Regions from separate parts of the Homo sapiens genome. Here region 1 is linked to region 2. Evidence: fine-mapped expression QTL. A gene starts in region 2. The other region holds a variant in brackets. All regions are shown on one strand. Distances are from middle to middle. Region 1 has its middle 23 kb from the start of PLRG1. Region 2 holds the start of FGB (fibrinogen beta chain).

What was found. PIP is the estimated chance that this variant, and not a neighbour inherited with it, causes the effect. A credible set is the group of variants that fine-mapping cannot tell apart.
Region 1: its variant is the best candidate, but not a certain one, in a credible set for the expression of FGB in lung (TOPMed, PIP 0.60).

Annotation. Positions count from the first base shown.
Region 1 is chr4:154,524,406-154,529,803 of GRCh38, reverse strand. It overlaps the pseudogene WDR77P1. Among named protein-coding and RNA genes, the nearest start is that of PLRG1, 23 kb to the left of the region's middle. The variant T/C (reference allele first, on the strand shown) is at 2,198.
Region 2 is chr4:154,559,803-154,565,200 of GRCh38, reverse strand. It overlaps FGB (fibrinogen beta chain), which reads right to left and starts at 2,190. Exons shown (of 8, transcript NM_005141.5): 1 at 2,069-2,190. The coding sequence starts at 2,182.

The DNA.
Region 1 (5,398 bases), 35 kb after region 2:
ATCTTAAAACCCTAGTTTCTACTTCAAAAATAATATTAAAATAGTTCCTTTCTCCTTAAATTCCTGCTTTAACAATCTTAATTCTCTCCCAGGCAACGTGATTGCCTCCAGCTGATGAAGGGAAGAGTCAGGAAGTGGAGGAGAGAAAAACACAAGGATTAATATGCAGGATGTTATCTCACTGCAAGTACCTCCACCATGGTGTCTTCTAACACTATGGTAAAATGACTGTTAATATGAAAAAAAATTTTTGTTTAAGCAAATCAAAATCAGTGTAGTTTCTGTTGATTAAAAAAGTACAAAAGAAAAATATCCATCAAACTTCCTAAGAAGTATTGTCCTGTACTGAGCATGCCAAATGTAAGAGAAAATTCTTAAAAGGAGAACCCATAAATACGGATGTTGCCAAAAAGCATGACATTATCATTTAGTAGATTGCTTTATGAATGAAAACAGCTATTTGAATAAAAAGTCTTGGCTGTCTACCACCCTCTTGGAAGCTGTTTGCAACGACAATTGCAATTAATAATAATTATATTATTAATTAATAATAATTGCTTCCAATACCTTTGGTGGCATTAGAAGGTACTGTTTTCCTTAGGAATTAATTGTAGGATTTTTCATTTCATTCTCACAAGGTGTGAAGGTGGAGACATATTACAGTAAATCATTTGCATTGGAGTGTGGCCAAGAGAGGGAATGTTGCAAGAGCAAAATACGATGAATGTCCATGAGAGAGTGGGAGGCCATAGTAGCTACAGGGAAGTAGGATGGAGCCAAAATAATCTCAAGTGCTTGTATGACTGGGACTATTAGTGAGGAATAAGAAACAAGACTCCCTGAGCGAGCCTGTGACTAAATGAAAGTACCAGAGTCCACTTTCACTGGGGTCAGAATGTTAGCTCTTCCTTGTCCTCTGCTGGTGTTTGAAAAATTTGATATCCATTATTAACATAGGTTCAAAATACTGAGAGAAATAGCTAAGGGATGATCCCCAGATACAATGAAAGTAACTCTGTTTTCTTTATTTCTGGGTCCTAGCTATGGCAGGTTATCTCCTATTTTAATAAGATATTAGAATTTTGCATGATTCATTCACTCATTCAACAAACACTTATTGACAGGTCACCCTTCCCTCCTTCCAGCACAGAGGCAGGTTTTTCTCTGTTTTTATTTCTCTTAGTTATTTCAGTTGGGAAACCTGTGTAACTATATGCAAAACGTATATATATGCACACATTTATTTAAAATTATTGCTGAATTTTGAAAAATCATTTATGAAAAATTATGACATAACATATATTATTATTCTAGTATACAGGAATTGTAATGTGGGCCAAACAAGTCATTCTTGATTTTCAGATGTGCCATAGTTTTAGTTTTACATTTTATTACTTTGTAACATTACAGATTTTGCCAGTTCATTTAATCAAACTTTATTAAATTGTGTAACTGTAAATGGAACTTTCTAAGTATAAGTCTATTCTAGCTAGCAAAATGTATTTTATCAAGTATAGTAACAGAAGAGTGATATACATAGGTTAGAAGTCCGTATCTATGAAAAAAATTCTTCTAAGACTTGACATAATTGTAACCTTATATTGGACTGTAAACTTAAACTTGGATGTATATATTGTCATTTACATAGTGTCATATATTCACACTAACTTGCTTGTCTGTGAACGATTAGAATGCTGAACTTTCACATTTAGACTGTTTTAAAATTGTCCACTACTGAGACTTAAATCAATTATTGATAATAAAACTGCATTATTGATTAATATGTATAAAGGACAGCTAATGTGTTAGTATTACCCTATCATTTAACTTGAACTATGGATGAAAAATGTAAGATATTCCTTTAAGTACTTTCTGTTCAACATCTTTTAAGAGAGACTTGGATTTGAGGGGGTAATAAAACATTTATTCTAGTGTAATGTCACAGATTTGCAGATAGTTCATTTTAAATCTCTGAGGTCTACACTCATTAACACTGACTTATAAAAAAGAAAGAGTTCCATTTACAAGATATTTGGTAAATGAAGAAAAGCATAAATATCACCAGCCACACTGTTCCCTACCCGCCCCCAAGCCCCAGCCACAGGGTGGAAGACATTCATGGACAGAAGCATGCTTTTCAGGGTAAATGTGACTTAGGATTCTTCCTGGATGGTGCATACGCCTCATAGTTCCCCAT[T/C]CTTCCATCCTGGAGAGAGCTGGAGGAGTGGAATGGGGTGTCTGGGAATTCTCCTAACACAATGGGGCAATGTCTTCACAGCATCCCTCCCCATTTGTTGTCATGACTTGCACCTGCAGGGCGCTCACTCCACCAGCTACCGCCCACCTGTGCAGAATCCTCATTTCACTTCCCTTCATCAAAGACCCAGCTGGTGGATGGAGCGCTAACTTCTCCTGGCTTAATTTTCTTTTTCTTAAATAAGGAGACAAATTCAATAAACTGGAACATTCTTCTGGTTTGATTGTGTGGACCAATCAAAATGTGGTCTTTGATAGCTTCTGAAATGAAACATACACACTATTTTATTAAAGGCAGAAAAACAAATATAGATGAAAATATCCAAAGTCTGCTACCAACTTTACGTTTTAAAAAATCCTCAGCCCGATTTTATATAACCATAAGCAGAAATTTCAGAAATATTCTCCTCAGAGGACAAAGTGAAAAAAGTTTTTTAATGCTTCTAACCCTCTAATGAGACTTATTTTCCTTAAACGGTTGGTCTGCCCTTATGTCCTGTCCTGTAACCTGTTTTGTTTGTTTGTTGTTTTTTTACCCTCATCTTTTCTGTGATGATAAATCTGTTCTTTTTTGTCAATGTCCTTGATCTTCCCAGAGCCTGGCAGGTTCCACCCCACCCTCTCCACAGACCTCCCTCCCCTTGCCTTCAGTTCCCTCATCCTCTTCCTCCTCAAGCTGCTCTATTACCAGTAACACATTTTAAATGTGTGGTTGGCTTTTTATAGACAATGGTTAGATTTAATATGTATGATTTATGTTTGAAAAGCAAGCAAGTTGTGGAAAGACTTGGGAATCGAGATTTGTTCTCTTTCTTGGATTGAAATCAATTTTGAAGGGTAGCACATAATGCCACATGCAGCCTATGGAACTTTATATCACACTAGACTTGGTTTAGTACACATGGATCAGGATGATGCTTTCAAAGGTGACATGCTCAAGATTTTGTTCCCCTTGGGAAATTCAGGACAGTGTTTCATCTTTTTTTTCAATAATTGAGGCCTCTTGTCTGTAATATCTTATACTTTCCAAAGAATTTTCATGTATTTTTTTTTAAATTGTGGTGAAATACACATAGAATTTATCATAACCATTTTTAATTATACACATCAGTAGTGCTGTGTACATTTGCATTGTTGTGCAATCAATCCTGAGAATGCTTTTCATCTGCAAAACTGAAACTCTGCACCAATTAAACAATAAACCCCCGTTCCCCTTTCCTCGCAGCTCCAGGAAACCACCTGTTTACTTTCTGTCTTTATGAATTTGATTACTCTAGGTTCCTCATATGAGTGGAATTGCATTTATCTTTTTACAGCTAGCCTATTTCACTCAGCATGGTGTCCTCAAGGTTCATCCATGTTGTAGCCCATGTCAGAATTTCCTTTCCTTTTAAGGCTGAATAATATTCCATTTTATGTATATACCACCTTTTTATTCATCCACTCATGTGTCAATGGACACTCGGGGAGCTGCCACCTTTTGACCGTTGTGAATAATGCTGCTCTAAACATGGGTATACAAATATCTCTTTGAGATCTTACTTTCATTTTTTTGGATGTGTATCCAGAAATTGAATTGCCGGATCACATGGTAATTGTATTTTTCATTTTTTGAGGAATTGTCATATTGTTTTCCATAATGACTGCACCATTTTTGATTCCCATCAACAGTGCACAAGGGTTCCAATTTTTCCACATCCTCACCAACACTTACTTTGTTTTGTTGTTTTTCAAAAAAGGCAGGCTTACAAGATGCCTAAACTGTTTATTTCACCAGCCAGTATTTCTGATTTTCTTCCTGAGGCTGAATTTTAAAACTTTAAAAGTCTACACATACTGCATTTAGACTTTCTATATGCAGAGAAAGGGGCTGAGAGCAGAAGAGGTCAGGCCCCAGGCTGGTTTTGGGTGGGAAAAGTGGCAAAGATTCCTCTGTAACAGTCTGTGTCAGTTTTCTAACAATTGAAATGCCTTTAAGCTCTCCAACATCCACAAAATTTCCTCTAGGGCATCTATGACAGAAAAACACTCCTCTTTCATATACACAACACCAGCAGGGAGCAGAGGGAAGGGAGTTGGCAGAAAGGAGTGGACATTACACAGGCACAGGCCACATTTTTAATTCATCCAGAAAAAGGACTTCTGATTCAGTTTAATGGAAATGAGTTGTATAAAACTATAACATGTCCTGCCTCTTCCTCAAAACGAGCTGGGCTGAATTTTTGTGATTGGAAGCATTTCCCATAACGGTGAATTAAGCGCTATAAAAAATAAAATCAGTCCCATCTCTATGAGTAGCATAAGAGCTGCTTCCAGGAACCTAGGGATGCCCACATTCCATACCCCACCCAGATATGGTCAATTCCTCAGACAGCTACATGGGAAGAATAAAACCCTTTTGTCAACTTTTTTGGGGAGTGAGGGAGAGATGGTGTTCAGGGGAGATGTGGGATAGATTTTTTTTAAATCCCTCCCCCACCGTCCCACCTCCCTACCAAAACCTACACACACACACTCAAGACGAACCTGCATGCCCATTTTTAAGAAAGCTTTTCTTTCCTGTGACTACAGGATCCCAGCATCCAGCCTCCTTCAGGCTGCGAGACGATGCCAATTAATGGCACAGATCTAATGTTTCAACATACTACAGAAGGCTCCTGTGTTATCTCACAAGCTGAGGGAACAGGGGCAAAGAAGTGGACTCTCATGGGGGACTTGCTGTTTGTCTTAAGTCCAATCTACTCAGCAACGCTTTCAGGTCCAGGGGCTGGGAGAGGTTCTGTGGGCACTTGTGGCAGACGACCTGATGGTCCCAGCCCATTGTGGTAAGCAGAAAGTGATTGAGGGGGGATCAAGCAGCATCTCTCGCAAGGTCACAGTGGCCTCGGCTTCTAAACACCTCAGAAAGGCTGGAGTCCAGCACAGCCAGTGAGCCATCTTCGCTGTAAGAGGCCGGGAAGGGAACACGGTGTGAGGAAAACACCAGCCCAATGACACATTGGTCTTGTACAGCTGAGCCAAGGGCACCTCTCCCTCTCTTGGTGTCCACAAGGGAGACTGTCCCATTCCCATCACAAAGATGAAGACTTCACTTTGCTGAGGATGCCAAGCCAGTGAGGTGGGAAGGCAGCCAGAGGCACTG
Region 2 (5,398 bases):
CCCCAGTTTTCTCATCTGTAAAATAAGTGTAATGATAGTTTGAATCTGCCTTACAAGATTATTGTAAGGATTAAATAACTTATTGCATATGGTACCCTCAGAACAGTACTTGGCAATAATAAGTGCTCATTACTATTTTTACTGGAATCACACATAACAAGTACTACAGTTTAAGTGTCCTCTCCACTTCGAATTTCACTTTTAGTCTTATCTTCTATCAACAAAATTATTTGTTAAACCATTATCTTGAAATTTCTTACATGATTTCTTTATCAAACATTATGATTTTCTTATATTTAAAATAATTCTCAAGGCTTGTGCATTGTAATTAAAATTACTTGCTAACTTAAAATATTATATTAAAGGATAATGAAGCAGAAAATACGCATTGCAATAGGAAAGTTTTGATTTGGATTAACTACATTCTCATTTTTTTTTTTGTCAGTAGCTATACATCCTTTGGAGCTTAATTACAAATTAACAAACGACATGATTTGGAACAACTGAGCAACAACTGAGCTCTCTTGCAATTTTGTGAGTCTAGAAGTCATCAGATGAACTCTATTTGGAATTGCATTGTCATTTATTCATTAGATTATAATATTATTTAACATTTAGTAGGATGGTGCTAAGATTAAAACCCAGCCAGGCTGGTTCCAGATTTTCCTGTTTAACCAGTTGACTATATACATTCTTAATATGTAAAGATTCGGAGGATATATACATATTTCACATTGAAGTCATGGTCCTAGTCAGAGCTTACCCTCTCTAAAACAAATTTTAAGAAATGTGATTCATCTGCTTATTACAAATACAATTATAACAGAGAAAACTATTTTCTTTTTATTTCAGAGTGCCACTAGAGAGGTAGCATGGATGGTCTGGCTTTACTAGAGAAAAGGAAATTTTAAAAAATATTTAAAGAAAGTATATACTTAAAGAAAAACACTTAAAGAAATTATGAAGGCCACTTGTTGAATAATCAAAATCCATTTTAAAGCCTAAACTATTAAACTATCTCTGTGAGGTTTAGTTGATAAGCAGAAATGTGAAAGTGCTTTGCAGAGTACTTTACAAAAATTTCGTCTTACACATTCTTTACATTTTTCTTACCTAATATGATTAACCAGACTTAACCAGATTAACCATATGTTTTTACACACACAACCAGATTAACTATATGTTCTTACATGTAGAGTCTGATAAGTACAACACTCAAGTTCCCTTGAAACTCAATAATGATCCGAAATGAATCACTTCATTTAAATATTATTGTGTATTCTTATTTCTAGTTTAATGATACTATGCTATATGTAAGAAATTTGGCCATGATACGTTTGATGATAAAATTTAAATTTCTTAAATATCCATTGTCCTAAATGCATTTCTGTATTTTTAGTAACTGCAAATTAACAGCAATAAGTCAGCAAAAATAATAGTTGAGGACAAACTGTTCTACAAATAAATAAATTAGACTGAACCGTGTTTCATAACTATTAATAATAACAATACACACTAACTCTAATTTGAACTTTTCATCTGAAAAAAGCAATATTTCATTTTCTATCATTACACTTGATGTATTTTGCTTTTAGGCTTAGTTATAATTTTTATAAATAGTAATCTCAGTAACAATATATATTACCTTCCTTCACCAAAGAACAATCTACCTACCACCAGTTTCTTTTATCTTAAAATTCTGCTCTTTTATTATTTTATAGTTTGTGAGATTTTCAGATCTTGTCCTCTTAATTGTAATCCTGTATTGCTAGAAGTAAATGAAAATCACAGTACTCAGAATAGCAAGTGAGAAAAACACATCTTACATTAGCTAAGCCATCCTCATCTTAAGAAAACAAAGGTGATAAACTAGAAAACAAGAAATTACTTTGTTTTTATATAAGAAATACTATGAAACATTCTTTAAATACAATAAGTCAGAGGTTAACAATTCCATTTCATAACTATAAGCAATGCTAATTTCATTAAAATAAGCACATAATATGATTATGTTACATCTTATATTAATAATACTACTAATAATATAATAATGCTTTAAAAAATTCACCTCCTCATTGTCGTTGACACCTTGGGACTTAACTAGAAAAACACACAATAGTAGCAATAATAGATGTTTCATGGTTTTAAGTTTGTGGAAGCTCCAAGAAACCATCCTTTTCATGTAGACTTAACTGAGAGATCTTCAATCCTATATATATCTGAGTCCTCTGCTAGGAATGACTTCAGAAATGGTTACCTTTCCTTAGTTAATATTTAATTTTTGGTTCACTTGTTGGCTGAACCATTTTATCATTTAAGCAACATCTTCCCAGCAAAGCTTATTTACTTGTCATACAACTATTATTCTTTGTTGGTCTAGTTTAGAAACATTAAATTTCTTCAATTCATTTAATTGGACAAAATGATGGGAAGTTAGGGCACTCCTCAAAGAGAGATGTGTATCTTGTTTCTGGTAAATTAATGTGGAAACTACACAAGCTCCGAAAGAATATGTGAGAAAACAAATCTAAGCTTAGTAAATTTGACCTACTCACAAGGCAACCACTAAAATCGTGACTCATTAATGATATACCATAAATGCTTATGTTTTCTGACAATGACATAATTCTATTTCAAAAGGGGCCATTAAAATCAATAGTAATGTTATATCATAATGTGTTTATCTTTTGTTTTAGACATTAATCAAAATAACAAAATAACAAATTCATACCCTATTCTATGAAAAATACACATCAGAAAGACCCTTTTTTTGTGCTGAATAGCTTTAATATTTTGTCCTTAATTCACATAAGGTAAAATGTTCAACAAATTCTAAACATTATTAAGATAACTAATAAATTATAGATTTCTGAATCAAAATTATGATGATGATTAAATACATGTTTAACATTCTATTTTATTGTTATATAGTTTATATCATATGATTTATAAAAACAATGTTATTTTAACACTGGTGAAGTCTTCATACATCTATTTCAATTAGTATGCTCACAGACTAAATGAGGCCCATTTTCCTTCATTTCCCACAAGCCACAAAATTTATCTCTCTTGTCTGTTCACTTGTGTGTTGCAATCAGGATTAATAACTCCTACAAGAATCAATAGGAACACCAGTCAGTAATCCAAATCCCAGTAAGTGCATTGATTCAAAGCATTTTTCTGTTTTTTGTATGGAAAGTGAAACATTCTCATTAAATTTATAAATTATTTTATTAAAAAGATGGCAGGTTATCAGGGTTTGGATCAGCGTATTGAAACAATGCTTTGAAACAGAGTCTTGAGAATGGTGTGGGACCCACGACATTTCTTTCTTCTCCAGGTAGCAGAGATTGCATTCCCAAATTCTTTTAACTCAGATTCCTAGAAACAAATTATTCTCTTGGTAGCATAGGTTGTCCTCCCAAATTCTTTTAACTTAGCTTAATAGAGACAAAGTACTCAGTTTAAATTAAGAAAAAATATTCACTTGAGTCTTTCCAAATTTGTGTTCCCTTTATTAGCAATGAGTAAATATTATATTTTAAGATTTTTTTCTTTAGCTTTAATGGTTTTTAAAGGGATACATGATCTGACAGAAAAAGCAAATATCTATGTGGCTATTAATTAAAATATATACAGGAATATTTTCCATGAAAATATAACTGATAACAAAGTTTATTTTAATAATCTAGACAGGATTTTATTTTAGTGACGTACAGATTCTTACAGATTTAAAAAGAATTATCTGTTAAGAAAACTCTAACCTTTTTTTTTTCTTTTGAGGTAACGTATTACTACATTTTCAATGACTGATGTTTGATCAACTAACAATAGAATCATCATTTAACTTTCAGAAGTCTGTAAATTTGTAAAGTTTTTTCTAGTATATAATAGACTCTTGTTCAACACTAAAGTGAAGGTTCCTTTACTTTCCTACTTTGTTCTACTCTGATTGGCATTCTTCCCATGGTCAGAAGGAGGATGGATTCAATCCAGCATGCATGCACCATAACAGCACAGACTTAACATTCATCTTACAAATAGTTCTTGAGAGTCTCCTCAGTGACGGGTAGTGTGATAGGGGCTGGGAATGCATTGGTGAGCAAGACAGACATAGTAGGCGTTCAATACATAATTACGGGATGAATGAGTGAACTGGCTGTCATTGGTACATGCCTCAGATGCCAAATTATGGTAGTCATTTATCGTATTTAATTCTTGAAACCACTATGTTCTACAGATGGTGAAACAGGTTCAGAGAGGTTAAGTAAACTACCCCAGAGTGTATAGGTAGTAGGTGCTGGTATGAGGACTTGACCCCTGACTGTCTGACTCTACAGTCCACACTCTGTGCCCATTACATTATATTTCCCAACAGGATACAAACATTATAAAAATTTACCTCTACCTTCTTTTTGTGTGTTTGTTCTTTTGGAGTATTTTGGCCAGCCTGTCATCTTGGGACCATAATGTATCAGGCTGACACACTCACTCATAGCTTTTACTTTCACTTATCTTTTTACCCTCATATGTGGGTATAGTATTCATGTCTGTGTGAAGCATGTGCAATGCAGTGATAATGAGTTTTTGTAATTCTAGTTCTTGTTAGATATGTCTTTTTTCTGTAGAGTTATGTACAGTTACACTGGGACTCTAAATTGCCTAATATTACAAAGAATATTATCATGTTTTCAGGGAAGAAATATATTTGCAGAGACACCGCTTATTAAGATGCTTAAATTTTTTTAGAATGTTGATGCCATTGGTGGAGGGGAAAGGGAGTACTATTTGTTCAGTTATTTTGAGGTCATCAGTGCAGTGTTCTTCATATTAGCTGATGTCATTGCATAAGTCAAGGGTAGTAAATCAGTGACAGAGAAAACAGAGATAATCTGTCCTGCCCAGCAGCTCTCTGGCTTGAAGGGCAAAGACTTGCCGATACCCATTGTCAATACACTTGTTGATACTTTTACAACTCATGTCAGGCCCAGTCTCCATAGCACAAGGCAATTTGTGCTTAACAACTATTTACAGAGCATCTACTTCATAGCAGGTAGTTTGCTGGGGGCCGGGGAGACCTTGGCGAAGCCTTAAGTCTAAAAGGAAAGACAGAAAATGAAAACTACTTACAATAATTAGTGTTGAGCCTAAGATTGGGGGAGGTGAGGCTTTGGGACTGGTAACTTAAGGATCTAACTTTCTTCAGGGGGAAACGAACTTCAAAGGAAAAGGGCTTTTAGACTTGAAACTTGGTTTGAATGACTGTACAGTTTATGTCATGCACCTGGCACATAGCCAGTATTTAATAAATATCGGTTGAGCAAATTCATGAATATATAAATGAACGAATGACTAAAAGGAATACTGATTCTCGTTGTCTAAATATGCATAGGTTTTG